7 separate regions of the Homo sapiens genome follow, and all the other regions are linked to region 6. The links come from fine-mapping of genetic effects on gene expression. A gene starts in region 6. Each other region holds a variant in brackets. All regions are shown on one strand. Distances are between the middles of the regions.

Region 1 (4,472 bases), 180 kb before region 6:
ACACATGTAACTAACCTGCACATTGTGCACATGTACCCTAAAACTTAAAGTATAATAATAAAAAAAAAAGTCCTTACATCAAATCAATACAACATTTAGGGGCTCAGATTTTCTTTGAAATCAAAACAAGAGAGGTAGTTTGAGAGTTTGCTATCTTCACTGATCCTCTCAGGAATGTAAAAGTATGCATTAAAATTTCAACCTAGCACTGCTTGAGTTTTTTAAAGCAATTTACTTCTACCTGGACAAGCAGTAAGGCAAGCCAAAGTAGCTGGGTTTTCTGTGACTTCTCAGTCTCCAACCTTTATGGTCACACTAACATTTCACGTTTCTAATGCTCCTAAACATAATTATCTCAAAAAAAAATTCAAACCACAACTGAATTTAAAGGAAGGGGGGCACTTTGCGTCACTGATAGAAAATGATTTAACACAATGAACTTAGAACTGGGTTTTTTCTTGTAACCATAGTAAGGGAGTGAAGATCAGAGAATTTAAAACTGTAACTAGGCTAGTCTCCTCACCTTGCAGTATCTCACCCTATCGGGTAGTCGTTGAAACAACACTGAGAAAGAAAGGCTCACAAAATTTTGATTTACACACATGCAACTTAATCTTGACGACACGTAAGTACCCACTGCACGTCCCTGAAAACGCATCGACTTGATTCTTAAATACAACCCCTATGTCTAATATACTGGCAGTGCAGATACACTACGTGAACACAACGGGGATGGAGGTATATCTCAGAGAACCAGAGGCGTTAGGCCTGCTGGTAATCAAAACGGACAGCTAACTGAAGAAGTCCCGTTTTCTATCCCCACAGCAAACTGAGTTAACTAAGGCATCACTTGGAATCCTCAACTCGCAACCCCAAATACACCCAGACTTAAGGATGCAAGGCCCCTACAAAGCTCTCAGGAGGCGAGTCTCTCGTCCACACCAGGTGCACCTACTCTAACCCTAGCTTCCTTCTCGGACCCTACTCTGGCCCCTCGGCTCCCCGCACCGCCATACCTGGGGGCGCCCCCAGTACTGCATCCCCTTGCTTCGCCCCCACCCCTATCACTTCGTCACTCACCCTGAGTCACCGGAGCCGCCCGCCCGCCCAGCCCAATCCGCCCACAACACCTCCAGCCCCTCACCCTCCCCTCCTCCAGGCCGAGTGGAGCCGGCCTGTCCCCTCCCGCCCACCGCCCTGTCCCAGGACACTCACCCGCGGTAGTAGGCTTTCACCCGGACCTGGTGGGAATGGTCCCCGCTGCCGCCGCCTGCGACCGTGTGGGACATGGTGCTGCTGTCCCTCTGGGTCGGCATCTCCTCACTCCCCCGCCTCAACGCTGGAGGCCGGGGGTGCGGGGGGGCGCTTCGGGCGCCGTGGGGGACTCCGCCGCCTGCGCTTGCCGGAGAACCGCGGCCGTCCGCCCACCTACCTGCCCACCTCGCCCGCAGCGCCGACCCAAGGGTCGCCTCGCCGGAGCAGCCGGAACCGCGCGGCTCCTCCCACTGCCCGTAGGCGCCGCCGCCTCTACAGCCGCCCGGGCCCAAGACACCTCCTGCGTCGGTCCCTCCCACTTCGCTCGCTCCAAAGGCCCACATTCCGGGGTAGGGCGGGCGCAACCATCCAGCCAGCTCAAGGAGCCTCAATACCGGGCTGAACCATCCTTACGGGGGCAGAGAAAGGGGACAGAGGGAATGGGAGACGCTGATCATGGCATCAAACACGCCGAGAGGGGTGCTTTCACGCGAGCTGTGAAAGAGACAATGACCAGCTCTAGATCACTAAAGTCTCTTCCCTGCAGGGACAATGGTAGGGACAAATTCTACGACACCTCACCCTAGCCTCGCAACTTGGTCACGTCTGCGGTCGGCCGACTTGGCACCCGGGATAGATTTGCGTGCAGGTTTCTGGGATTTGGAGTCCTCATAGGATTCTGGGACTTGAGGTTCCTTGCGCGTAGGGTGCCGCGCCTTCCCGCTGGTGAAGTCTGTCTCTCCAGCGTGCTCCCTGGAGCTGTCGGGGTGGAAAACCTGGATCCAGCTTGGGCATCTGAAGGTCCTGGAAATGACTGGGCTTCCTCACGTTCTAGACTTTATTAACTGATGAAGTCTCCCTTCTTCTAATTGCATAAATCGTCTGAATTATACATGTCTTTTGGGGGAACAAGAATTTGGTTACCTGCTCAGCATAACCTCTTTTATGGAAATAATTTAATAACATATGTAACAAATATAATAAAGGAAGAAACTCAACCAGAAAATATGATGAAAAACCGATTTTTCTTCTTTGGGGGCCCCCATATCTAGGCCCTTGTAGACTGCCCTTGCATGGAACAAGAGCCCA[A/G]TGAATACTTACCCAATCAAGTCAGTCAATCCAAGAGCATTTCATTCTGTAAAAACTGGCTTACCAAAGATTAGAAAGAATCGTCCTTGGCCGGGCGCGGTGGCTCAAGCCTGTAATCCCAGCACTTTGGGAGGCCGAGGCGGGCGGATCACAAGGTCAGGAGATCGAGACCATCCTGGCTAACACGGTGAAACCCCGTCTCTACTAAAAACACAAAAAATTAGCCGGGCGTGGTGGCGGGCGCCTGTAGTCCCAGCTACTCGGGAGGCTAAGGCAGGAGAATGGCGTGAACCAGGGAGGCGGAGGTTGCAGTGAGCCAAGACTGTGCCACTGCACTCCAGCCTGGGCGACAGAGCAAGACTCTGTCTCAAAAAAAAAAAAAAAAAAAAAAAAAAAGAATCGCTCTTGTAACCTAGTCTTTGACTTTCCTAGGATCTTGGCTCTGACACATAATTTACACTGCAACTACAGGTAGCATGAATCCAGCCCCTGCAGCAGTCCTGGTGCTGAAAGAGTTGGAATAATCAAAGAAATAGCTTTCTTTACGATGATAAAATAGGCTTGGGGGACTGAGTCATCAGTTATGTGTGACACTTCAGCGTGGTACGACATCCTCCAACTGCTACAGACTTGGATTATATACTCTTACTAAAAATTCCCCTTGAGTCAGGCAAAGTGCTACATGCCTGTAGTCCCAGCCTTTGAGAGGCTGAGGCTGGAGGATCACTTGAGCCCAGGAGTTCAAGGCCAGCCTGAGCAACATGGTGAGACCCCATCTCTTAAACAAACAAAAAAATCCCATTGAAAAACTTGGTATCAGGTTTTTCAGTAATTGGAGACCTGCATCAGCAAGTTTAATACGGAGCGATTAATTATGGAATATATTATAAAATATACGGGCACCTGTAATCCCAGCTACTCCGGAGGCTGAGGCACGAGAATCGCTTAAACCCAGGAGGCAGAGGTTGCTGTGAGCCTCTGAGACTGCACCACTGCACTCCAGCGAGACTCCGTCCCTGGGCAACACAATGCACAGTGAGATCCCGTCTCATTTTTTTAAAAAAAGATAATTCACATGCCATACAACTTACTCATTTAAAGTGTAAAATTTGATAGTTTTAAGTATCTTCACAAAGTTTTGCAACCATCACCTCTACCTAAATCCAGAGTATTTTCAGCACCCTGAAAGTAACTGCATATCCATTAGCAGTTACTCCCCACTCTCCTCAACCTCTGGCAACCAATAATATATTTTCTGTTGCTATGAGTTTTTCTATTCTGAACATCGCTAGTAGCTGGGACTACAGGCATGTGCCACCACACCCTGCTAAATTTTGTGTTTTTTGTAGCGCCGGGGTTTTGCCATGTTGTCCAGGCTGGTCTCAATCTCCTGGACTGAAGCCATCTGCCTGCCTCAGCCTCCCAAAGTGCTGAGATTACAGGTGTAAGCCACCATACCCAGTGAAGGTTTCAGTTTTTTTTAATGTCCTTGCCAATACTTGGTTTTTTTCCCATCTTCTTTATCATAACCATCCTAGTGGTTGTGAAGTGGTATCTCATTACAGTTTTGATGTACATCTCCCTAATGACTAATGATGTTGGGTATGTTTTCGTGTTTTTATTGGCCATTTATATATCTTCTTGGAGAACTATCTATTCAGATCCTTTAATCATTTTTAAATTGGGTTGTCTTTTTTCATTGAGTTGTAAGAGTTCTCTCTTTTCTTTTTTTTTTCTTCAAGACAAGATCTTGCTCTGTTGCACAGACTGGAGTGCATGGCATGATCACAGCTCTCCAACTCCTGGGCTCAAGCGATCCTTCCACTTCAGCCTACTGAGTAGCTAGGCCCATAGGCATATGCCACCACACCCAGCTAATTTGTTTTTCTCGTTTTTGTAGAGACTAGGTCTTCCTATAATGTCAAGGCTGATCTTCAACTCCTGGGCTCAAGTGATCTTCCCACCTTGACTTCCCAAAGTGCTAAGATTATAGGTGTGAGCCACCATGCCTGGCCAGAGCTCTTTATATATTCTGGAAATACATCTCTTATTAGATTATTTGCAAATATTTTCTCCCACTCTGTGCATTATCTTTTCATTTTTTTAATCTTTTCATATTTTTGATGGTA
Region 2 (4,472 bases), 150 kb after region 6:
ATCGCTTGAACCAAGGAGGCGGAGGTTGCAGTGAGCTGAGATCACGCCATTGGACTCCAGCCTGGCAACAAAACAAGACTCTGTCTCAAAAATAAACAAATAAATAAATAAATAAAAAATAAATAAATAAATTGTGTTCACTCTCTAGGCTGTGTTCTGATGAACAGCTGGGATGTCCTCCCCACCCAACCCTATGAAATACTATATGCACAAATATTCATTCAGTGGACACTTAAAGACAACTACTATGTGCCCAGCAACTTTTAAGATTAAAAAAACAGGACAAGGGCCGGGCGCAGTGGCTCACGCATGTAATCCCAGCACTTTGGGAGGCCAAGGCAGGTGGATCTCCTGAGGTCAGGAGTTCAAGACCAGCCTGGCCAATATAGTGAAATCCCATCTCTACTAAAAATACAAAAAAAATTTAGCTAGGCGAGGTGGTGGGCACCTGTAATCCCAGCTACTCGGGAGACTGAGGCGGGAGAATCACTTGGACCTGGGAGGCGGAGGTTGCAGTGAGCCAAGATCGCGCCAATGCACTCCAGCCTGGGCAACAAGAGCGAAACTCTGTCTCAAAAAAAAAAATAAATACAATAAAAATAAAGAAAGATAAAATTTTGTTTAAAAACTCAGTCACAGCTGGGCACGGTGGCTCACGCCTGTAATCCCAGCACTTTGGGAGGCCGAGGTGGGTGGATCACTTGAGGTCAGGAGTTTGAGACCAGCCGGGCCAACATGGTGAAACCCTGTCTCTACTAAAAATAAAAATAATTAGCTGGGCATGGTGGCACATGCCTGTAATCTCAGCTACCCGGGAGGCTGAGGCAGGAGAATTGCTTGAACCTGGGAGGTGGAGGTTGCAGTGAGCCGAGGTCACGCCACGGCACTCCAGCCTGGGCGACAGAGTGAGACTCCGTCTCAAAAAAACGAACAAACAAAACCCCTAAAAACAACAACAACAACAACAACAACAAAAACTCAGCCACCTCCTTTTGTATATATATTTCACTGAAAAGAGTCATTGAACCTGATCCCCAGCATTGCTGCCTTGGCCCGTCCTCTAGATGTAAGGTGGGGTCCAGAGGAGGATGTGCCTTAGCAGATATTAGGAAACAGGGCACACAACAAGGTTTCATTTCTTTCAACAACACCTTATGGCTCCTGTATGAAATATTTAATTGAGAGCACTAAATGCTATAGGATTTCCCTTTCAGCAGTGGAAATCCTGCATAAGTCAATCATGAAGGTCATTACGGCCGCCTTTCCCTTTTTCTTGGCTTTTTCTCAGAGGCGAGATTGCAGCAGCAATTCATGGGTCCCTTCAAACTAATTTTGTTACTGGATTCCACTACAGCATTTGGAATTCTTGATTCTGAGAAACATTTTCTCTAGTGTGTGCCTTAGGAATACAAAGGAGGATGGCTGTTGGGCATAATAAGCCTTTAGAAAAATCTCTTATTATGAATAATTCCAGACATATACCAAAGGAGACAGAATGGAACAATAACCCTGAATGTACAAATTATGTAGCTACAACAATCAGAAAATTGTGCCCACTCTTGTTTCACCTATACCTTCTAAGACTACAAAAGGTACACCTTTCACCTTCCCCACACTGGAGTATATAGAAGCCAGTGACAGCAATGGTATTCTTTCATCCATAAATATTCTAGTAAGTGTTTCTAAAAGAGAAAGACATCAAAAAATTACCATAAAATTATGACCTAAAACTTTAACAATGTTTAATATTATCTGTTATCTGTAATCCCAGCGCTTTGGGAGGCGAGGTAGGTGGATCACCTGAGGTCAGGAGTTTGAGACCTAGCCTGGCCTACGTGGTGAAACCCCATACTCTACTAAAAATACAAAAATTAGCCGGGCGTGGTGGCATACGCCTGTAATCCCAGCCACTTGGGAGGCTGAGGCATGAGAGTTGCTTGAACC[C/T]GGGAGGCGGAGGTTGCAGTGAGCCGAGACTGCACCACTGCACTTCAGCCTGGGGGACAGAGTGAGACTTGGTCTCAAATAATAATAGTAATAATAATTACCTGTTATCCAGTGTTCAGATTTCCCTGACTGTCTTATAATTTTTTAAAAATTTGGTTTGTTTGAATGAGAATCCAAAAAAGGTCCACAAGCTGCATTTGGCTTACATGTCTTGAGTTTCTTTTAAGCTATAGGTTTTTTTCCTGCTTCTTTTGTCTTGAAATACATTTGCTTAATAAACAGATTATCTTTCCAGTTGAGCCTGCCACAGTCTGGTTTGGCTTATTGTACTCCATGGTGTTCCACAGGCCTCTGTATTTCCTAAAACTTGGTTATGAGATTTAGATGCTTGGTCTGATTCAGGTTTGAGTTTTTGGCAGAACAGTCTCATAGGTGGTGTTGGATCTTCCATCAGGAGGCACGTCATCTTCAGTTATTTCTCTTCTTGTGATGTTAGTGGCTACTGAAAGTCATAGCCTGTATCTTATTTAATTTGAGATTTGCCAGATGATGATATTCTATTATTCTTTGAGTATGTATGTGTGTGGAGAGGGAGTGAGGGAGAGGGAGTGAAATTTCCCTCATTAAGTATTTGGTATCCTAGGGTACAGCTCACACTAGAAAGTCAGGTTTCATGCTTGATTCTTTTCAGAATAATTAATTGGTTTATTAACATCCTTTAAAGATGACCAATGTGTTTATTTTAAAAATATTATTATGAATGTATCAATTTTAAATTTATTTAATATGTTTCAATCCATTGTATTAATGCTCAAATTATGCTGTCTTTGGCCACTTGGAGCTGTTTCAAGTTGGTTCTTGTGTCTCAGAAATAAGCTTTTTAATTGCTTCTGGGAAAAGGACATAGAAACCTTTTCCAGAACTTTTGCTCATAGAACAGTGGTATCCAAACTTTTTTGATTGGGAACTCTCATCAGAAAATATTTTTATACATGAATATCCTTTATATATTTTTAAACTTTATATATTTATGCACATGAACTGTGATTAAATGTGCTATGTATGTGATAAAACGCCCCCAAATAGAAATCTTAAATGATGAAATAAACAATGTTTTAGAAATGGTAGCCACGTAGGCGGTCACTGGATACAGCTCTCTCAACCAACACAAGAGAGTGGGGGCAGAATCTCAGCAATGGAAGAGACCCCCACCCCCCAGCCCCCGCAACTTTGCCTGGTGAGGAGCCAGGCATCATAGAAGAGACCGGTCTTTTGGCCTCTAGCACTGGGTCCTGGAGCGCCCAGCCTGGTTTCCTGCCAAGAGTTTGGCATGAGCACAGCAGAGATTCCTAAAGTGTCCTGGCCCCAGACCAGGTCCTTTCAACATCCAACAATCTGGTGAGCAGGCCCAAGTCGGGTAATGATTGTTCAGGAGACGAGGCACACAGGCTGGCCTCATAGGTGGGGAAATAGAATCATATACATCTTCTCTCTGAGAAGGAAACACCTGAAGTTAGAAAAGTGCAGCTTTTTAAAGAAGGGAGTCAGCTTTAATTTAGAAGAATTAATAAGGCAAATTTCTGAAAGTGCTTTTTCATCTATGCTAATAAACTAAGCTAAAGGATAAGCATGTTTATAACTTAGGGACTAAAGGATCTAAGTGATCTGGTTGAGACAATCTCTCAAAGACTCAAGTAAAGATTTTGCTCCATTACAAGTGGCAGATTTCCTCTGTTGTGTTTCTATGACTTTCACTTTAAAACATGAGGAAAATTGTCAAGTTGTTCTGATATCCACCTAAATTGCAAAGTTTTGTGCTTGCCAATAACTCTGAAATATGTTTAGAAAATTATGAAACATCAGAGAGGCTGGTATGAGACGTAATGGTGGTTTTTGCAAGAAACCTGTCATTATCTCTCTAATGTATGCAAACATAAAAATCAACTCTGATGTTTCCAACAAAAAAGTCTTTTGTTCTTGAAAACAATAAAAAATCAGAAGGCATTTCGCTTTCGAACTGGTGATGACAATTCCCTGCTTCTCTTTTGTAAATGTTTAAAAAGCAAATTTGAATAAAACCAAAATTTCTCTTCTGACAATTTCTAAGTTTAAACATGCAAACTTTCATCATTTGAATTTGCAATTGTATTACAGAAAGTTAAGAGCTGGAGGAAACTTAGTGGATAATCTTTAAGAGAAAGTAGAAAATTCTAAATGGTTCATCATCTGAAATTTTACCCTCAGGTAGTCATTTATTTGAATCAAGCACCGTTGACCCTATAAGAATGCAAATAGGCCTGGGAAGCAGAGCATCTTGTTGACAACGTTCTGTGTGAATTAGTAGTGTTTCTCCCCTGATTGGAAGGACCCAGGCAGGGACACTTTGCAACTTTTGGGTGACAGCCTCTTGAAATGATAGGAAATCATCTCAACTACCAATGTTATTTCTATGCTAGCATCTAAGCCCTGTTTTTGTGATGCCAAATACTTTTTACTAAGTACAAAATTTGAGCCAGGGGCTGTGGCAT
Region 3 (4,000 bases), 86 kb before region 6:
AAAAAAAAAAAAATATATATATATATATATATATATACATATGGAGCATAATACTTTGAAAACTAAAGCCAAAAATATTTTGTTGCTTCCTGCACTTCTACCTTAAAACATTTTTGGAAGTTTAAAAAATGATATTAATAACTTTCTCTGCTATCACTGATATGGTTATAATGCTTGCTATGGATGTTTCCATGTTACCTTTCTAAATATTTTTTAATCTTTTACCTTTCTTTGAGTAACATAGCTCTTTAATAATTTATTAAGCTTGTTTTTTTATTACCTTTGACCAAATGTGTTATTTTTTCCATTCAAACACATTTCTTCACAGGTTATATTTTTCTGGTTGTTTCAAACACTTAAAGGTAGAAAGATGTATTTTTTAAGAGATGTGGAAATTTGAAAGATAAGGGTGAATTTTCAAAGTAAAATCAGTATGTTTTTTAAGATACTTAAGAATTAAAGTTTTTTGTTGACATTTGGATATAAGTATGTTGAGGGTAGATAATTTAGAACTAATAAACAAATATTCCTCAGTTTATTTAGGAAAGGGAAACAGATGGGAATATTGGACTTTATTGAGGTAAGTTTGGCAGTCTTTGTTATTTTTAGAATAGTTATAGTTATGAGCTAAACAGTAATTGTGATGTGCAGTTTCCTAATGATCTTGTGAGTGAGCAAAACCTCCACTTTGCTTTTTTCAACATTTTAATTGTTGAACATTTAGATTTGTTAATGCTGATTGTGCCAGATGTCTGTGACAGATTTGTTTTTGCCTACTTCTTTTATTCATGCACTTATTTCGCCTTTATATGAGAGTTCTGGAAGTACATATAGTTAGCTTTAAGTATAATGAGTGGAAAGTATTTTACAGTATTTGATGGATTATTTCAAAATATGCTATTTGTGTTATGGCTCTTTTCATTCTTTAAACTCTTGTTTTTAAAAATCAGAATTCTATGTATGATCAAGCTTTGATTTCTTAAAAGATACTCTAGCAGATGTTTGAATAACATGTAACTGCATTAGGATTAAAGAGAGTTTCAGCATTTTAAGCAAAGATCATGTTCTTTGGAAGAAAAGTACTATCTATTATACTGAAGGAATGCTACATAGATAAAATTGAACTGGTCGATAAAACCATACTTGTTTAATTATCTCTGAATTAACATCTCTGACACTAAGGCAAATTAAAGTATTCACTGTGACAGCACTTGCCCTTGGGGACTAGATTTTTTTTCTTAACCCCCCAGACACTTTTTAGAATGATTTTACCTATATTGGGCATTATCATCATTTAAAAAACTGTTATTATCATGAACCGATCTAGTATAATTGTTGCTCCGAACAATAACAAATGACTGCTTTCACGTCTGAGATTCAGGCATGAGGCACAGAATCTCTCTTAGTGTAACTGGTTTCCAGGTGCAGGGTTGTGAGCAAATAACTTTAAAAAATGTTGCCTACTTTGTAGCTGATTCAGATCACAGTTCTGAATTTTATATTTGGTATAATATTATGTTTGATATAAAATTATCCAGTAACAGTAGAATTTTAAAGTTGTACAAAAGACAAAAGAAGATGTTTTATTCTTAGTGGAGCCTTGGAAAGATTTTTATTTTATTTTATTTTATTTTTGATTGTCACCTATTGTTACCTTTATAACTTACTGTTATATCCTTATAGGTGAAACTTGATTGTCCCTT[T/C]TACAACACATGGGTTTTGCTGGTTTCAGAAATCCTGATCACTTTTATGTATAATTTTATATACTTTAAAACATCAGACTTTTAAAATAGTTTGATTAAAAATGTACACAATATTAGATGTTGCTGAAAGGTTTCTTGTGAATGTTGAAAGTTTGTTTGTTAACATTTGTGGGGCTAGGTGTGCAGTGGCTCATGCCTATAATCCCAGCACTTTGAGAGGCCAAGGCAGGAGGATCACTTGAGCCCAGGAGTTTGAGACCAGCCTGGGCAACATAGTGAGACCTCATCTCTACAAAAAACATTTTAAAATGAGCTGGGTGTGTTAGTGAACACCTGTGGTCCCAGCTACTCAGGAGGCTGAGCTTGGAGGTCAAGGCTGAGTGAGCCATAATGGAGCCACTGCACTCCAGCCTGGGCAGCAGAGTGAGACCCTTTCTCAAAAAACACTTTTTTAATGGGAAGATTAGTCAGTATGGTTAAATAAGATTTTAAAAACTCATAATTTTTGTAAACTTAAGTAATAAGCTTTATAGATAAAAGAAGGGAAATGAACTCTTATGGCTTTATTTTTAGTAATCATTTTTCATAAATAATGGTTAAGTAAATAATAAATGATAACAAATTAAATTAAAATACCCATGTCAACCTCTAGAAGTGTTCTTTGAAATGGAAACATTAATAATAAGGTATTGGCCGGGTGCGGTGGCTCACGCCTGTAATCCCAGCACTTTGGGAGGCCAAGGCAGGTGGATCACGAGGTCAAGAGATCAAGACCATCATGGCCAACCTGGTGAAACCCTGTCTCTACTAAAAAGTACAAAAAATTAGCTGGGCATGGTGGCACGCGCCTGTAGTCCCAGCTACTCGGGGTGGCTGAGCCAGGAGAATCGCTTGAACCCAGGAGGCAGAGATTGCAGTGAGCTGAGATCGCACCACTGCACTCCAGCCTGGCAACAGAGCGAGACTCTGTCAAAAAAAAAAGTATTTCTAGTTACATAGCTCCTTCTCAGGGTGCCTTCGATTCCATTTTCCTTTTTCTTTTTTTTGAGATGGAGTCTCACTCTGTTACCCAGGCTGGAGTGCAATGGCCTGATCTTGGCTCACTGCAACCTCTGCCTCCCAGGTTCAAGTGATGTTCTTGATTCAGCCTCCCAAGTAGCTGGAACTACAGGCGCCCGCCACCATGCCTGGCTAATTTTTTGTATTTTTTTAAGTAGAGGTAGGGTTTCACCATGTTGGCCAGGCTGTTGTGGAACTCCTGACCTCCGGTGATCCACCCACCTCAGCCTCCCAGAGTGCTGGATTGCAGGCACGAGCCACTGCACCTGGCCCCATTTTCCTTCTTAAGTATAATCTTTACAATTGGATAACAAGGTGGTTAAGTTATAGACTTAAAAACTTTCTCCCATAAGTATGGAACATTATAAAAAGAGTAAAAAAATAAGGTGTCAAAGAGCTTAGGCTGTGTGTGTGTGTGTGTGTATGCATTTCAAGGAAAGATATTTTCTGTTTGCATATTATATATAAAGAGTCATTAGATTGTTGAGTAGAACAGAAAAGGAGAGATATAATTGCGTATCTTTTTTTGTAGATTCTCAGATGTTACTTTTTATAATTTAATCTTTAAATTACATAATAATAAGGAAGAGCCTGGGATAGAATCCTACATGTCCTAATATAGTGTGTCATTGTAGGAATTCGCTTAGTGTGCTTATGAAAAATGTTAGTATCTGTTTTGATTCATGACAGTTAGAAGTTAACAAAAACAGTTGAATTCCCAAAATCGTTATTTTATTTGTATTTTTTAATTATCGAAATAAAAAATATTTTCAGACTTGACTACCATCTTTTTGGAAACCTTGGTGATTTTTGGTCTAGATACTGATCCACAGCTTGCTTTCAGTCAAATATTATGAAGAAATATGAAAAACTTCATTCGAGCAATTTTTAAGTTTTCCTTTCAGTCTGTTAGAGTAGTCATTTTTGCCTTGTTTTTAAATTTAATACACATAGAATTTAATTTTCTGAAATTAAGAACACCTGATAAAATATAGTTTTGGAAACATTTTAAGGCAGTATGGTTTGTCATTGCAGGTTTATCAGGTAGAAGATGTGTGTGAAGAAGAAATGCCAGAAGAGTCAGATGAATGTGTCCGGATGGATAGAACCCCACCACCACCCACTTTGTCTCCAGCAGCTATAACAGTGGGGAGAGGAGAAGATTTGACTTCTGAACATCCTTTGTTAGGTGAGAAAATACCAAAATTTGTGGGAATTTTTCTATTTGATAAATGTTA
Region 4 (4,000 bases), 120 kb before region 6:
AATTGCCTGAGATTGAGTTATAGTAGAGTTTCTAATCCTGACCCCAGTGATGAGATTCTTTGGTTGCCCATTATAGCAAATATGTGTATTGTCCAACATTGTGCTGCTTGCTCTGGTGGTACATGTAAGTCAAAGTTTCTTCCCTCAGGGAGTATGCATTTGAAGAACTATGCTTAGATATATCAAACAGTAAATAATATAATAGTACTAATCAAGTGGTAAATGTCATAGGAGTTAACAGAAGAGAGATCTTTGAGGATTGTATTATAGTAGCTGAGGAACGCTAAACTTTTAAAACAGGTAGAGTTTGCAGACAAGAGGTCTCACCGTGAGATCATGATCCTGAGACAGCAGAGGTTAGATTTAGGGATTCATTACTATGTGGGATTCTATGTTAGTCTTCCACATTCCTGAGGACAGTCTATGCCAGTACTTTTTTATTGAGTGCCTACTTGGTGTCAGGTGCCAAGGATTGAAAGTGAACAAAGGTTTTAGAGTATAATGAGGATACAGACAAGTAAATAGTCAAAGGACAGTATGATAAGAATTTTGTTTTGCTGGAGTATCTTATAACTTTCTTTTAAAGGCTATGTGGAAGAAAAACTAAATCTTTGTGGGCTTGAAAATTACCTCTTTTTATAATTATCTTTACATGAATTCTGTATTGAAAATATTTTTTCTGAGGAAATTTGAAAGCAAAGATTACTTTTTTCAAAATTTTAGTATTGCTGAAGAAAAGGCTGTTGTTAGTTCCATTATCATTCTTCTGGGGTAACTGCCTGTTTTTTCTTTCCAGAATCTTTGAGATATGCCTGTTTGCTTTAGTTTTTTATTTTGTAGTTTCATGGCAATGTGTCTAGATGTCATTGTGTAGGACACCTGTTGGGCCCTCTTAGTGTGAAACTAGGTTTTTAATGATCATGTATGTGAAACTAAACAAATCTGCAAGAAGTTAATTTTGTTCTTTAATGATCATATATGTGAAACTGAACAAATCCACGAGAAATTAATTTTCTGTTTTCTCTTTCTGGAGCTCTTGGTTGAATGTTGACCTTTCTGGATTGATCCTTTATCTTGTTTACCTTTTCACTTACTGCCTTTTTTTGTGTGTGGGATATTTCCTTAACTTTTTCTTTTAGCCCTTTCTTTGACTTTTAAAAAATTTTTAGTTCAGCCACTATTTATAATTTCTCAGAGCATTTTCTTGTTTTCTCATTGTTCTTTCAAACTAATATTCCGTTTTTCTATTATGGATAAAATACTTTGGATCTCTGTTATGCTATTTATCAGATTTTTTTTTTTTTTTTTTTTTTTGAGACCGAGTCTCGCTCTGTCTTCCAGGCTGGAGTGCAGTGGCGTGATCTCGGCTCACTGCAAGCTCCGCCTCCCAGGTTCACGCCCGTTCTCCTGCCTCAGCCTCCTGAATAGCTGGGACTGCAGGCGCCTGCCACCACGCCCTGCTAATTTTTTGTATTTTTAGTGGATACGCGGTTTCACCATGTTAGCCAGGATGGTCTCGATCTCCTGACCTTGTGATCTGCCCGCCTTGGCCTCCCAAAGTGCTGGGATTACAGGTGTGAGCCACCACGCCCGGCCCAGATTTTATTTTACTTTTATTTTCACTTTTTTTTTTTTTTT[C/TC]AAGACAGGTTCTCACTTTGTTGTCCATGCTGGAGTGCAGTGGTGCTAATATGGCTTATTGCAACTGCCACCTCCCAGGCTCAAGTGATCCTCCCTGCTCAGCCCTTCAAGTAGCTGAGATTATAGTCGTGTGCCACCACACCTGACTAATTTTTGTATTTTCTGTAGTGTCAAAGTCTTGCCATGTTGCCCAGGCTGGTCTCGAACTCCTGAGCTCAAGTGATCCACCTGCTTTGGCCTCCCAGAGTGCTGGGGTTACAGGTGTGAGCCACTGTGCCTGGCCTATCAGGTTTTTTTTTTTCTTTTTTTGAAATTTTTCTTTTTTGAGATGGAGTCTCACTCTGTGGCCTAGGCTTGAGTGCAGTGGTGTGGTCTTGGCTCACTGCAACCTCTGCCAGCCAGGTTCAAGCGATTTCTCCTGCCTCAGCCTCCCAAGTAGCTGGGATTACAGGTGCCTGCCACTATGTCCAGCTAATTTTTTGTATTTTTAGTGGAGATGGGGTTTCACCATGTTGGCAGGCTGGTTTCGAACTTCTGACCTCGTGATTCGCCTGCCTCGATTTTTTGTTGAGATGGAGTCTCTGTCACCCAGGCTGGAGTGCAGTGGCACAATCTTGGCTCACCATGCCTGGCCCGCATTGAGTATTTAATTAAGGATCACATTGAATATTTAATTAAGGATCACATACTGCATTGAAGACTCTTTTTTCTTTTTAATATAAAAATAGACTTCATTTTTTTTCTTTCATGACGTTTGAAGAGCTCAGGTCAGCTTACCTTATGGAATTTCCAATAGTCTAGATTTGTGTGATTGTTTTCTCAATCCTTTTTTACTGTATTAATTGCTATTTCAGTGGGGTTTAGTAGGAGGGATAAGCAAATGGTTTGTTTCTTTATTGTCTTCTTTATTTATTGGTTGTAAATATGATTTTTAATGAGTATATAATGTTCTACCATTTTTAAAAACTACTTTTCTCTTGCTGGTGGTTTTAATTTTTCTGTCTTTTTGCTAATATAAGTAAACCTGCATTGACTATTTTATTATATATATTTGTATATATTTTTAGTTATTATTTTCTTCTTAAAAATTTCCTGAGAGTATATTCAGTGGGTCAGTGAGATTGTTTTTAGATCAAGAACCTTAAAACTGTTCAGTTTTCTCAAAAATGTCCAAATCACATCAGCCACATATCAGAGTCCATTTGATATATTTATACTATATAGGGGATGTAAATTTACCTGAGAGAAAATCATTTGCTTATAATCAGTCATTCTCAGTGTTCTACTGCTAGTGTCCTCATCCTCTATTATCTCATTCAGGGAATTTTTTTAGGCTTCAGAACTCATTGTTTTTAAGGATTCTTTAAAATATAATTTTAAGTGATTGGGTGTAGAAGCCTTTTCCAAAACCTAATACTAGTGTGAGATAAAACTGTAGCCTGAATATTTGTATGGTCACAAGCAGCTTTACTGCATTTTTGTAAAATATTCCAACAGTACAGAAAAAGTAAAAAAGGTATTAAGTTCCCTAAAGCCTCTTTTCCCTTTCAGTCCGTCTGTCTTCTTAGTTGGTTCCATACCCCTCCACATCTTATCCTATGTATTATGGACATATATGTCATAGAGAAGTGTGCATATATGCATTTAGCACTCTTTTTTACACATTGTAAACACAGGTATTCTGCATTTTGTTTTTTTCCCTTAACAGTGTGTCTTGAGATCTTTTTATGTTTGCAGACAGAGATCAATCTCACTTAAGCTGCTGTGTGGGGTTGCACTGTGTGAATGGATTTTATTTTATATAACCATCGCTGTTGCTGGACATTTTAAATTATTTCCAATATGATAATTGTTCTGACATTGCAAGTTTTCTTTCTAGGATGCCAAAATCTGAAAACATTGGGAGACTGTGAGGTTTTTTATGTTTGTTTTATTTTCACCAGCTTGTATTGCAGAAAGTAGAAGTAATGTTTTTCTAAAATAAATAGGATAGGTATTTTATTTCTTTGATTTATTAAAAAACACGTAGTCTCAGCAGGGTACGGTGGCTCACACCTGTAATCCCAGCATTTTGGGAGGCCGAGGTGCGTGGATCACGAGGTCAGGAGTTCAAGACCAGCCTGACCAACATGGTGAAACCCCGTTACTATTAAAAATGCAAAAATTAGCCAGGCATGGTAGCAAGCCCTGTAATCCCAGCTACTCAGGAGGCTGAGGCAGGAGAATCACTTGAACCCAGGAGGCGGAGTTTGCAGTGAGCCAAGATGGCGCCACTGCACTCCAGCCTGGGTGACAGAGTGAGACTCCATCTCAAAAAAAAAACCATGTAGTCTCTTAAAAAGAAAATTCTTCATGGATAGCT
Region 5 (4,472 bases), 65 kb after region 6:
GGTGCCTGCCACCATGCCCAGCTAATTTTTGTATTTTTAGTAGAGACAGGGTTTCGCCACGTTGGCTAGGGTGGTCTTGAACTCCTGACCTCAAGTGATCCGCCAGCCTAGGCCTCCCAAAGTGCTGGGATTACAGGCGTGAGCCATCGTCACCGGCCTATAGTCTCTTTTTATAAGCCACAAAACAGTAATTAAAAAGATAAGATGTTGCTAATAGTGAGTATCCAAATGTCAAAGTAAGTAGAAACAAGTGTCATAAATAAATGTTAAAATAACAGCCAAAGATATGTATCCTGAACAATGGACAACAGATCGCAGAAGGAGTTCTCAAATTAATCAATGACAGCTGCCCCCAATGTGGTAGCCATAAGAACTACTGACACAATGACAATTTGTATTCTCTTTCCTTTCCCCCTGTGGCTGCAGATACCAGACACTCCTGGGACTGTCTTTCTCATCTTCTCTTCTCCAGTAAGGGTGAGGCAAAAATGAAAAATGCAAAAAGAGTTATTACTATCTCATTTGAAGAGGTGATTAATGGAAGTGCACTGACAAAGAGTCGTTTTGGAAAGGCCGTTTTAATCCTTCTCTGCTTTCTTTCTTCTATATCTTTTCCCAAATTTTCTATTATTTTCTTCATTGTTTCTCATTCCCCATCTTCCCTTTATTCCCTTTCATTCTGAACTTCTTTGACAATTCCTCCTGTGAATTTATTTTCCCTACTCACGTACTGAAGAAAATGAAGGCAGTCTATCTTTGTATACATCTTATGTATAAACTTTCAAAAGCTGTCTTATTGCTGTAAGCTATTGAAACAAATGCACTGTACTTAATTACTGTCTATAATTGCATGCTTAAGCACAATACACAGAACATTCAGTATTTCCAGCAACATATAATCTAAATGTGAATGATTTCAGGAAGGGCTGCTTCATTAAAGAATAAAATGACAAATAATAGTAAAAAATAATCTGGCAAGAATCTAAGATGCTAAGAATTAATGCTAAAGACAGCTGTTTCAAGCAAAAAAAATCTAATGATGCAAAATAGAAAAAAGAATCTATCCAACTTATCTATGTTGGGTTTTTCCAAAGTTAAGAGAAGTCTGAATTAAGTTATGTTTGAGGAAAATAAAGAACAACCAACAAACCTACGTTTCAGCTTTAACTTTATCCCAAAAAGGAATAATTTGTTAGATGAAGTGGAAGTTTTTGTTTTGGTTACTGAGTCTCCTGGCAGGTACATCTCTCATTTCTTCCTTTGTATTTCGCAAGTCCTCTACTTCCAGTAGCCCAATTACCTGTGTAAGATCATACCAGTGTACAATTCCTACAGTCTGCAACTACCAGCTGTGGGCTATTTGTGGCAATAAAAATTAAGAGCCCAAATCACTCAACCCAAAAGAAGGCTACTATAAAAACCAAGTATTTATGAAATTAAAACTTTTATATATGAAAATACGTATCACAAAAAGTAGATTTTTTTTTTTTTTTTGAGACGCAGTCTTGCTCTGTCTCCCAGGCTGGAGTGCAATGGTGCTATCTCATCTCACTGCAACCCCCACCTCCTGAGTTCCAGCGATTCTCATGCCTCAGCCTCCCGAGTAGCTGGGATTACAGGTGCCCACCACCATGTCCGGCTAATTTTTTGTATTTTTTGTAGGGATGGGATTTTACCATGTTAGCCAGGCTGGTCTCGAATTCCTGACCTCAGATAATCTGCATGCCTCAGTCTCCCAAAGTCTTGGGATTACAGGCGTAAGCCACCACGCCCAGCAAAAAACTGGAACCTTAAAAAATGGCAAATTCAAAATTTAACACTCCAAGTTCAGGAACAACTACAAGATTCATAATGATTTATTTGAGGCCTGACTGCAAAATATACTTTCTGATATAATAAAAGGCAAAAATTCCTAATTAAAATTTTTGAAACCATGCTAAAATATATTAATATATGTTAGTATCAGGCATATTAAATGATAGTATTTAATTATGTTTGTAAAATACACTACACTTCGCAGAGCCTCAATTAGTAAATAATAGTCTATATATCCATACATCTGAAAAAGTAATACTATAAAAGTTGAATACTATAAATGGTTTATAGAAACCAATTCTATTATATAATCACACCACACATGCTCAATTTTTTCCTCATCTGATACATCTGTTGTCAACTTAAAATCGATCTAATTAAATAACTTGTTACTGGGAGGTGCTTGATTAAAAATTGTGGGGGAGAAGTCTGAATAAATGTGACCTGTTCTTCCAGACTTACAGAGTACTCACCCTATCATCTTTGGATGCTACAGTTAACAGCAAAGATTTGTAAGGCATGATATGTACACTCTGTTACATAACTGTTAGAAGCAGTAATTATTATTTCCCAAAAAGAGGGGCAGAAAAAATATTTTTGAAATACACAGAGTAGGATGGGTTGGGTGGCTCATGCCTGTAATCCCAGTACTTTGGGTGGCTGAGGCAGGCAGACTGCTTGAGCCCAGGAAACCAGGCTTGAGACCAGCCTGGGCAACATGGTGAAACTCCTTCTCTACATAAAAAAAAAAAAAAAAAAAA[G/AAG]ATAGAAAAAGGTGCTACACATGTGTAGTTCCAGCTACTCAGGAGGCTGAGGTAGGAAGACCACCTGAGCCCTGGTAGGTTGAGGCTGCAGTGAACCAAGATCATGCCACTGCACTCCAGCCTTGGCAACAAAGTGAAAGCACCCAAATTAGGAGTGAGATTATCAATGTGGATGGGAACACTGGAAGAGGAAGATAAAGTTTGAAAGATGAACAAGTTTTGGGTAAACTGACTGAAAAGCCATAAATATTGTGGCTGAGAATGACACAAAATTTGGCTCTAGTAGAGACAAGCTAGGAAGTACTGGGAGATTAAGTGTGTAAAAGCAGAATAGTCATCAAGGTAGGCAAGGAAATTTCTACTTTACCCTGTAAGCAGCAGAAAGACCACTAGTAGTTTCTTAATAGGACATAACTAGAAAAATGATTTAGACATGATTTTGGTGGCTGTGTGTAGGATGAACTGGAAAAAAATGCATAAGGCAGGGAAATGGATGGAAGACTACTGTAATATTCAAGTAAATTGTAGTGTGATACTGGACTATAAATGGGAAAGAAATTTAGATATCTGAAACATTTCAAATGTAGAACACATAGAACTCAATGATAAAGGATAAATAAAATGGCTAGGTAAAGATGTCAGATTTCCAACTTTATCAACAGAAAGGAAATGTGGAAGGAAAGTAATTGTAGAGAATGACCATATCAAATTTAGGCATGATACAAATATACTCATACTAACACTCAGTTATACCATTCCTGAATACAGACATAAATATACTAATCTACTGACTGCTGATAGAGGCATCACATGTAAAACCTGATTAAATATTAGGGTACATAAAAAATTGAGAAGCTGATTACATATTACGCAATAGGGAACCTGATATGTATGCACAAAATTTAAAAATCTCATTCTAACAATTAATTTCAAGTTCACCAAACTCTTCTAAAACTGCACCCTGTCCTTTGTAAAGGCACTATCAAGAGGCAATGAAAGGAAGAGACCAGAAAACACGGACTTGGATAATCTCTCCCAACTAGACACAGAATTAACTTGTTTACTGATACTTTCTTAAAGTATTGCAATTTATTAACTTATAATAACTTATCCATATTGTAGACTGCCTTCAATGCAACAATATAATTTGTGCCATTGCTTTGGCGTTGAAGCCAGAAAGATAGATTGCTGTAGAAGAGTACCATGAGAGGCAGGGCTCAGTGGCTCATCCCTGTAATCCCCACCACTTTGGGAGGCCGAGGTGGATCGCATGAGACCAGGAGTTTAAGACCAGCCTAGGTAACTTTCTGATACTCCATCTCTACAAAAAATTAAAAAAAATTAGCTAGGTGAGGTGGTGCACACACTTGTAGTCCCAGCTAGTTGGGAGGTTGTGGCCAGAGGATCACTTGAGACCAGGAGTTTGAGTCTCTAGTGAGCTATGATGCCATCACTGCATTCCAGCCTGGGCACCACAGTGAGACCTTGTCTCTTTAAAAAAAAAAAAAAAAAGTACCATGAGAACATGAACAGATAGTTGGGATTACAAGCACAAGCCACCACATCCAACGTGCATGCAGTCTTCACTTTCACTGTTCTCCTGATGCAGCATAAGAAGGTATAAAAGTTTTACCTTCTTTTTGTTTATACATTGGACTACAGTACCTCCCCCTCTTTGTTCTCTTTTGATGTAAACAGAATATTTTTATAATTTTCCTAGAAGACTTCTAACAAAGTGAAGGCCTTTTGGGAATAGTAGCACCCACTAATAAAGAGAAACCAACCTATCAATCTTCAAACAAATGGAGAGAACTTCTTAGTTCAATGAATGAACACAACTGTCTTACAATGAGGAAGCTAAGAGCCAATAAATTTAGGCTGGACTGCCTTTCCTTT
Region 6 (4,472 bases):
TGTGTAAAAAAAGCTGACCTAGCCTCCACCTGCATCAACTTGATCCGCTCAGCTTTGTCACACTCAGCAAACACCCTCTGCCTTCTGAGCAAAATAAATCGGCACCTCCAGTAGGGAGAAAAAAACTTTTTATGACCGAGTCTGGAGAAGCAGCCTTGACACCCAATTTACAAAGAACGAGCGTCTGCGGAAGACCTTGCATCTAGACTCGGCTGCAGTGCCAAACCTACCTTATGCAAAAAAGCTCCACAAGTGGTGGTGTTCTGTTTAAAGGAAAATGCCAAACACACACAAATACTGAAACAATAGCATAAGGACTTCCATAACCATCATCCAGCTTCAACTATTTTTATTTTTGTTTTACTTTAAGTTCTGGGATACAGGTGCTGAATGTGCAGGTTTGTTAATAGGTATACATGTGCCATGGTGTTTTGCTGCACCTATCAACCCGTCATCTAGGTTTTAAGCCCTGCATGCATTAGGTATTTGTCCTAGTGCTCTCCCTCCCCTTTCCCCCCACCCTCCGACAGGCCCCCGTGCCTGAAGTTCCCCTGCCTGTGTCCATGTGTTCTTCCCAGCTTCAACTATTAACAATCCATGAACAATCTCCTCTCATCTTGTTCCCCTCCCTTCTCTGCTAGCATCTAAAACTGAATAATTCTGAAGCAAATCCCAAAGCTGTATTTCAACTTCAGTCTGTGTCTCTACAGGGATTTTAAAAACCTTAATCAGGATACCGTTACCAAAAGTAACTAAACAGAACTATTATAATTTCCTTGATACCATCAAATAATCAGTAGAAATGTCCTTCATCGTCTCCTTATTTATTTATTTATTTTGAGACGGAGTCTCGCTCTGCCTCCCAGGCTGGAGTGCAGTGGCGCCATCTCGGCTTACTGCAACCTCCGCCTCCCGGGTTCAAGCGATTCTCCTACCTCAGCCTTCCCGAGTAGCCGGGATTACAGGCGCGTGTCACCACACCCAGCTAATTTTTGTATTTTTAGTAGAGAAGGGTTTCACCATGTTGGCCAGGCTGGTCTCGAACCCCTGACCTCAGGTGATCCACCCACCTCGGCCTCCCAAAGTGCTGGGATTACAGGTGTGAGCCACCGCACTCGGGCATCATCTCCATTTTAAAAAACATTCATCAAATCAGGATCCAACCAACGTCCACACCTTGTATTGCCACCGAATTTCTCTTAAATCGTTTTGAAACTGCACACAGGTCCTCCTCCCTGCAATTCGCATAGCAACCAAGCTGATCCTCACTGACAATTTCCAAATAACTATAATAACTCTATTCTGGAGATATCACAAGTGCCGGTCTTAGAGCTTGTCAAATGTATACATATATGTTTATATTTATATATAAATGCACAAAAGCACACAAGAAACCATTTCACTCGAAGCAATAACAATCCTGAGAGCTAAACACTCGTTCATGTCTTTTGTGATGCTTCTCGGTGGGGGTTATCTCTGGGATTTAAGCGACACTTCCCCTTACCGGAGACATTTGCGCAAGTGTAGGACGAAGCGAGAGCGGTTCCTTCCAGCCGAACCTGCCTCCGGAGGCCCGGTCCGTGCGTTCGTCTCCGGACTGCAGGGGGCGGCCCTGCCACCACCTCGAGGCCACCTGCGCAGGTGAGAAAAGGAGTTTCAGTCTCCGGGTTCCTGGGGGTGGTCGCAGGTAATCTAGAGGGAATTTTGAGCCAGCCAGGATGGTCATCCAGGAACCTACCCGGACGCAACGGCCTCGGAAAACAAATAGCCGGGCAAGGCCCTGGGGCTTAATCCCAGTGGCGGGCGCGGGCGGGGGCGCCGTCCCCAACGCTCGAGGCCAGGGGAGGGGAGGCAAAGTCGGCCCCAATGAATGCACGCACGCGCGCGCGCGCGCGTGTGTGTGAGACTATTCACCTCTGGGCGCCAGGAAAGAGCGAAGAGTTGCATACACCCATTTCTATAACCTTGCTGGGTTTGTCATGTTTAAAAAGCATCTCCCCTGGAGAGAGGGTGGCGAGTCTCTGGGTGCGGGACACGCCCATTCCCCAGACCCCCTGCCCTCAAACCCACGACAGACCCCAGTTGCTAAGGCTCCGCGGTAATCCCCATCCCGAAGCAGGAAGGCTCGGGCGTCCGGGCTCCACTCCTGGATCTCTTAAGTAGCAGAGAACCCCCAGCCCCTGAGTTCCTGCAAAGGAAATTCCTTCCCCTCCCAGGCGCGCTGAACGCCCGGCCAGGGAGGCTGGGAGCGGCGCGGGGACCGTTCGCCGCCCCGAGGCTGGGACGCCGGTGGCGAGAGCGCCGGGCGCCCTCCACCTGCGCCCGCACTCACCCGAGGATCGATGGCTGTCGGCTCCGCAAGGTTGAGGCCCCGACACCTGCAGCGCCCGTGCCCAGGTGACCGCCCGAGGGAGGGGCGAGGGCCCAGCTCGCCCGCCTGGTCCCGCCCCGCCCCGCCCCGCCCCGCGCGCTCCCGGGAGGGGCAGGGGAGCACGGCCCCGGGACCCCGCGGCGACCCTGCTGTGGCTCAGCCGGCTCCAGACCAGGAAATGCGGGCGTCAGAGACGGGCAACCTTTGAGCGCGCACGTCCCGTCCGGGCCCAACGAAACAAGGGCCGGAGGGCGCCGCCTGCCGGCGGGACGGAAAGATATCACAGAGACTGTCACCCCCCGCCGGCTAGGAGAGGGCTGAGTTGAGGCTGGCAGAGGGACGCAGCCAGGGGTGCGCAGTGCGGGAGCCGCTTGGGGGCTCAGTGAGACCCCCTTCCTCATGCCACATCTTGAGGACCCGGCCCCTGTCCTAGGAGCTCCCCATCTCCCCAGCAGGCGGGCGAGCGGGGGCCACTGGGTCAGGGCCTCTCCTTCCCTTACCTCTGCAAATGTAAACTTGGCAGTTGTCTCCAGATAAGAGTTTACACAGGGTGGCCAGGCGGTGGCTCATGCCTGTAATCCTAGCACTTTGGGAGGTCAAGGTGGGCGGATCACTTGAGGTCAGGAGTTTGAGACCAGCCTGGCCAACATGGTCCACGTTGGTCCCCATGTCTACTAAAAATACAAAAATTAGCCGGGCTTGGTGGCACGCACCTGTAATCCCAGCTATTTGGGAAGCTGAGGCACGAGAATCGCTTGAACCCAGGAGGCGGAGGTTGCAGTGAGCTAAGACCGCACCACTGCACTCCAGCCTGGGCAGCAACAGCAAGACTCCGTATCAAAAAAAAAAAAAAAAAAAAAAAAAAAAAAAAAAAAGAGTATACACAGGGTGACAGAACTTCTTGAAACTTGTATGCTTCTAAGCAACCGCCTGCAGTGTACTGTGAATTCAGATTTTTAAATAAAAATCTGCAAATATTAAATAGCCCATATATTGCATTGCCTTTTTTGTGTCAACAGTGCTAATTTGTTGTCATTCAACAAATATTTGTTGAGCACCTACGACTTGCCGGTCATTTAAACATTTAAAATATCGAACAATTAGGCCAGCGCAGTGGCTCAAGCCTGTAATCCCAGCACTTTGGGAGGCCGAGGCGGGTGGATCACTTGAGGTCACGAGTTCAAGACCAGCCTGGCCAACATGGTGAAACCCTGCCTCTACTAAAAATACAAAAATTAGTTGGGCGTAATGGCACATGCCTGTAGTCCCAGCTACTTGGGAGGCTGAGGCAGGAGAATGACTTGAACCCAGGAGGCAGAGGTTGCAGTGAACCAAGATCACGCCATTACACTCCAGCCTGGGCAACAGAGACAGACTTCATCTGAAACAAATAAAATAAAATAAAATATTGCACAATTTCTTCCTTCTCCTCTTCACGCAGAGCCTTGAACAAGGGGAGTGTCCTGAGCCTCTCAACCTCTCTGAGTGTCATAGCAGTTAGAGATTAAAGATGACCATGTCCATACACGTTTGTATCTCTCCACAATGTCAGTCTTTTTTTTTTTTTAAATGCTATTTCAATCACAAAATCCAGGAGCTACATGGAGTTCCCAAGGAGGCAATTCTCCTTAGTCCTTCCCATTCACTCTGTAGTCAGAGCACATAGGTTCAAGCCACTCCATAAGTCAGTAAATATTGCAAACCATACATACTAGTATACTTAATCACTATACGAATGTTGTAGATTAAACATTCCACAACAAAGTAATATTTAACATCAAGACGAAGAAGAGGAGAAAGGGTTAATGAACCAGTCCAAAGGGAGGGAAGAAGACAAAGGGAGTCCTGGTCTGGGCCTGGTGGTCTTGCAAGGAAGAGTCTTTGATGTGGCAGAGCTTTCGGTGGCAAATTCTGAGTTCTTATCATGAGTGACTGCAAGACGGTGTTAGTGAAGACAGCCAAGCTGAAGGCTTCGCTCTTTTACAGTCAGAGGGTCCTCTGGTGAGAACTTATAGTGGATGAGTGTGCTTGTTTGTGTTCTTTTTTAAAATTTGTTCGTCAAGCAAAACATCTTATCCTTGTTAGCAAAGTGCCCATGAAA
Region 7 (4,472 bases), 310 kb before region 6:
TAAATGTATCCTTCAAAAGGCATAATTCGTCAGCAGGGTTACAAAATTATCTCAGTTGTGGAGATTAAAGAATCAGCCTCAATGTATTCAGAAAGTAAATCAGGTGTTTACCTTCCCTTATTCTGAATTTTTTTTTTTTTTTTTGAGATGGAGTTTCGCTCTTGTTGCCCAGGCTGGAGCGCAAGGGCACAGTCTCGGCTCCCCGCAACCTCCACCTCCTGGGTTCAAGCAATTCTCCTGCCTCAGCCTCCCGAGTAGCTGGGATTACAGGGATGCACCACCACGCCTGGCTAATTTTGTATTTTTTTAGTAGAGATGGTTTTTCTCCATGTTGGTCAGGCTGGTCTCAAATTCCTGATGTCAGGTGATCCACCCACCTCAGCCTCCCAAAGTACTGGCATTACAGGTGTGAGCCACTGCACCCAGCTGATTTTTTACCCATGAAATAAGCTTGTGATTATAATGGGGCACTCAAACCATTTGCACCTGGAGTTCTGTGCCAGTGTAAATGCTCCAGTTCCTTTTCTAACTGTAAACCCATGTATGGCATGTTGGTTGTGTGCTTCCAATGCTGTACGTTTAGTTAAGATGAGTCTGCTCATCACAGACCAGATCAATCTTGTTTGTTGACAAAATCGGGTATCTGAACCTTCAAGGCAAAGAGCCAGGTTCTAATTAACCCAGATAACCTTGGTCTGGCCAGGTCTCTGGCAGACAGCAAGATGACCTCCCTACCAACTCCCTGACCTGTTCCAGGAACATATCTTCAAAATATTATTTTCTAAGTAGGATCAGGAGAAACTGTGGAGATCCTTAATGGATTCTGCCATGGCCTAATAAGAACAGAGAACCAGAGGGGTTAGATACGGAAGACTATGAGACAGATGGGTTAATCTAAAGGATGATAGCAGGAAAATGAGAGGGCCAGCAGCATTCTTACCTAGGAAGTACTACTGGGCACTTCAGAATTGAATATCCCCATAAGAAAGTTGTTTGATGAGACCCAGAACTGACTTACTGAAATGAAGAGTAGCACAACCAGTGTTTTTAAATAGGAAACTTTTCATCTTGACTTCTCCTTTTTTTTTTTTTTTTTTTTTTTTTTTTGAGACAGAGTCTTGCTCTATCGTTCAGGCTGGAGTGCAGTGGCGCGATCTTGGCTTACTGCAACCTCCAACTCTCAGATTCAAGAGATTCTCCCACCTCAGCCTCCCAAGTAGCTGGGACTACAGGCACATGCCATCACGCCCGGCTAATTTTTTGTATATTTAGTAGAGACGGGGTTTCACCATGTTAGCCAGGATGGCCTCAATCTCCTGACCTAGTGATCTGCCCACCTCAGCCTCCCAAAGTGCTAGGATTACAGGTGTAAGCCACCGTGCCCAGCCTCATGTTGACTTCTTACTACCCAAAAAGTACCCATCAAAGCACCAGAGCAATTTTTCTGAAAGTGGGATTTGCCAAGTGCCTGCACCAGAATCATCTAAGGAGCCTGTTAAAAATATGGGTTCTTGGGCCCTAGAACTACCAAATTAGAATATTAGGGATCAGAATGCAGGAATCTTCCTCCTTTAACCCTTTTTTTTTTTTTGAGACAGTTTCACTCCATCACACAGGCTGTAATGCAATGGCTCGATCTTGGCTCACTGCAACCTCCACCTCCTAGGTACTAGCAATTCTTCTGCCTCAGCCTCCCAAGTAGTTGGAATTGTAGACGCGCACCACCATGGCTGGCTAATTTTTGTATTTTTAGTAGAGACGGGGTTTCGCCATGTTGGCCAAGCTGGTCTTGAACTCCTGACTTCAGGGTGACCCGCCCACCTCCGCCTCCCAAAGTGCTGGGATTACAGGCCTGAGCCACTGTGCCCGGCTTTCTTCCTTTAATCTCTATTAAGCAAGCTCCCAAGTGCTTCTCTGTCCTCTCAAGTTTAAGATGCTCTATACCAAGTGAAGGGAAGTATACAGAAAAAGTAGAGGGAACAGTTCCCCTACCCAAAGGGTGACCAAGGGACAATGGTGGCAGCAG[G/C]GTCACTCAGATTGGCCACTCAGGCAGGCAGGACAAAAGTGTAATGCAGACTTTCCTAAGAGAAGGAACAGGCCCGACTGTCCAAGATAGGCCCGCTGCTCCACCACCTTGAAAGTAGTTTTTTAAATGCTCTTTAGCAAAATTGGCATAATTAAGTAAAAGGAGCACTCTGGAATTCTCTCTCTGTTTCTCTCTCTCTCTCTCTCTCTCTCTGGGCAACATGGCAAGACCCCGTCTCTACTAAAAATACAAAAAAATAGCCTAGCATAGTGCTGCACACCTGTGGTCCCAGCTACTCAGAGGCTGAGGTGGGAGGATTGCCTGAGCCTGGGAGACAGAGGTTGCAATGGTCCAAGATGGCACCACTGCACTCCAGCCTGGGTGACAGAGCAAGACCCTATCTCAAAAAAAAAAAAAAAAAGAAAAGAAAAGAAGAAAAAGAAAAAAATGTCAGGCCGGGCGCCGTGGCTCACGCCTGTAATCCCAGCACTTTGGGAGGCCGAGGCGAGCAGATCACGAGGTCAGGAGATCGAAACATGGTGAAACCCGGTCTCTACTAAAAATACAAAAAATTAGCCGGGCATGGTGGCGGATGCCTGTAGTCCCAGCTACTGGGGAGGCTGAGGCAGGAGAATCGGTGAATCCGGGAGGTGGAGGTTGCAGTGAGCCGAGATCATGCCACTGCACTCCAGCCTGGGTGACACAGTGAGACTCCGTCTCAAAAAAAAAAAAAAATTTCAAATCCTTTGACTCAACAATTATTCCAAGAAATGTATCCTAACAAAGAGAGTGGAAAAAATGCTAAAAGATGTATAACAAATATGTGCATCAACGGCATTTACCATAACAAAAAATTAGAAACTTTCTAATTGAATTATTTCAATCATGATGCATGCAACTCCTCCATCCTCTTCTAACAGAAACCATCTCACTCACTTACTCTGGCCTTAGGGTATTCTCTGAGCAAAGGATGGTTGCTGAATGAGTCAGGAGCAGGGACCAGAACCATAGTCTAACCAAAAACCTAGACTTAGCCTGACCCAAAAAGCCCAGCCCAGAGGGTTAATACTGATTAATTAGGCCAATTAGACTTTCTCTTTTTATAATTTAACAGGAAAAGACGGAGTTAGTTAGCCAAGTGGAATTTATGCATTTTCCCTTATAAATGAGTTATATATTAAGTTATATATTAAAACCTCAGGCAGTAAAATGATTATTTGCAAATATGCCTAATGTATTAAAGTTATTTTCCAGAAAAAAATGTTAACAACACTGTTGTTTTATTCATTAATGTTTCAACCACTTCCCAGTTAAATTAGTTACGGTAGGTGGTCAACATATTCTTTCAATTGACAGCAGGGGAAATAAGTGTTGATACTATTCTCACGAAGTTAACTATCCTGGATTTAAAGCTTACTAGAATTGGCCTCTGTGGGAAATAAATATTGGCTCTGTTGCCAAAATCAGAGACTGGATTTCTAATGAATAGGTTTCTTTTGCACAGGTAATATAGATTTTAAAGAAACCACATGGTCTCATTAAAGGTTAATGTAAATGTGAAATTACTACCCTGAAGTTCCATCAACCACTTTGTCAATTTTTAGATAAACCAGTTTCTCAAATAAAGCTCTATATAATACCTTTATTTAATGATTATTATTTTTTATTTATTTATTTTTGAGGAATTTCACTCTTGTTGCCCAGGCTGGATGCAATGGCGCCATCTCGGCTCACCGCAACCTCCGCCTCCTGGGTTCAAGCGATTCTCTTGCCTCAGCCTCCCGAGTAGCTGGGATTACAGGCATGCGCCACTACGCCCAACTAATTTTGTGTTTTTAGTAGAGATGGGGTTTCTCCATGTTGATCAGGCTGGTCTTGAACTCCAGACCTCAGATGATCTGCCCGCCTCAGCCTCCCAAAGTGCTGGGATTACAGGTGTGAGCCACCACGCCCGGTCTATAATATTTTTTAAATGTGCTTTAGTCAGCTTCTCCTGAATGGACAAAGGCCAGGCCTTCAGTATTCAATATTTAAATATTTTACACATTCTAAAATACATATTAATAAAATAAATACTGCATTTTACGAAAGTGGAGAACAACATGCTAATAAATGTTGCAAAATTATTTAGTTGTAAACAATCATCCACACTGATGCAGACTTCTGAGGCCATTCACTAAATACATACGTATTGCAGAGATCATGGTGGGCCATAATAAATAGGAAGTAAGAGTCCAGTCTCCTGCAGGCCTCTGTGACCTCACCAGCAGCATCACACCTGCTTAGATATTCAGCTGAGATCTCTACCTAAACTGGAAGATCTTCTTATGTTGCCTCTCCAGGTTTGGCTTCTTGCTTCAGAAAATGATACCAATCATAATCTCTGCTCCATCTATTGTTCAAATATCAAAATGTCAGAAGTAGGCTTCAGCTGTTAATCAGCTGT

Direction of the effects. Positions count from the first base shown, and alleles are read on the strand shown. Sizes are in standard deviations (SD) of each study's normalised expression. Not every link is listed here.
For the expression in monocytes of the gene that starts at base 2,553 in region 6, allele AAG in region 5 goes with a lower level than allele G (moderate effect, 0.67 SD a copy in BLUEPRINT).

The links. PIP is the estimated chance that this variant, and not a neighbour inherited with it, causes the effect.
Region 1: its variant is fine-mapped to the expression of GPR160 in whole blood (TOPMed, PIP above 0.99).
Region 2: its variant is fine-mapped to the expression of GPR160 in whole blood (INTERVAL, PIP above 0.99).
Region 3: its variant is fine-mapped to the expression of GPR160 in whole blood (INTERVAL, PIP 0.97).
Region 4: its variant is fine-mapped to the expression of GPR160 in whole blood (INTERVAL, PIP 0.97).
Region 5: its variant is fine-mapped to the expression of GPR160 in monocytes (BLUEPRINT, PIP 0.95).
Region 7: its variant is fine-mapped to the expression of GPR160 in whole blood (INTERVAL, PIP above 0.99).

What each region holds. Positions count from the first base shown.
Region 1 is chr3:170,219,514-170,223,985 of GRCh38, reverse strand. It overlaps PRKCI (protein kinase C iota), which reads right to left and starts at 1,562. Exons shown (of 18, transcript NM_002740.6): 1 at 1,216-1,562. The coding sequence starts at 1,316. RefSeq lists a silencer at 1,202-1,491 and enhancers at 1,672-1,831, 1,842-1,901, 1,972-2,031. The variant A/G (reference allele first, on the strand shown) is at 2,344.
Region 2 is chr3:169,885,716-169,890,187 of GRCh38, reverse strand. No RefSeq gene overlaps it. Among named protein-coding and RNA genes, the nearest start is that of LRRC31, 18 kb to the right of the region's middle. The variant C/T (reference allele first, on the strand shown) is at 1,945.
Region 3 is chr3:170,122,542-170,126,541 of GRCh38, reverse strand. It overlaps PHC3 (polyhomeotic homolog 3), which reads left to right. Exons shown (of 15, transcript NM_024947.4): 9 at 3,798-3,951. Among named protein-coding and RNA genes, the nearest start is that of PHC3, 57 kb to the left of the region's middle. The variant T/C (reference allele first, on the strand shown) is at 1,704.
Region 4 is chr3:170,156,566-170,160,565 of GRCh38, reverse strand. All of the region lies in intron 4 of PHC3 (polyhomeotic homolog 3), which reads left to right. Among named protein-coding and RNA genes, the nearest start is that of PHC3, 23 kb to the left of the region's middle. The variant C/TC (reference allele first, on the strand shown) is at 1,639.
Region 5 is chr3:169,970,685-169,975,156 of GRCh38, reverse strand. The region is part of intron 1 of SEC62 (SEC62 preprotein translocation factor); the gene reads right to left. Among named protein-coding and RNA genes, the nearest start is that of SEC62, 6.1 kb to the right of the region's middle. The variant G/AAG (reference allele first, on the strand shown) is at 2,577.
Region 6 is chr3:170,036,076-170,040,547 of GRCh38, reverse strand. It overlaps GPR160 (G protein-coupled receptor 160), which reads right to left and starts at 2,553. Exons shown (of 4, transcript NM_014373.3): 1 at 2,333-2,553; 2 at 1,505-1,633. RefSeq lists silencers at 1,529-1,578, 1,739-1,788, 2,099-2,578 and an enhancer at 1,174-1,673.
Region 7 is chr3:170,345,473-170,349,944 of GRCh38, reverse strand. No RefSeq gene overlaps it. Among named protein-coding and RNA genes, the nearest start is that of SKIL, 10 kb to the left of the region's middle. The variant G/C (reference allele first, on the strand shown) is at 2,027.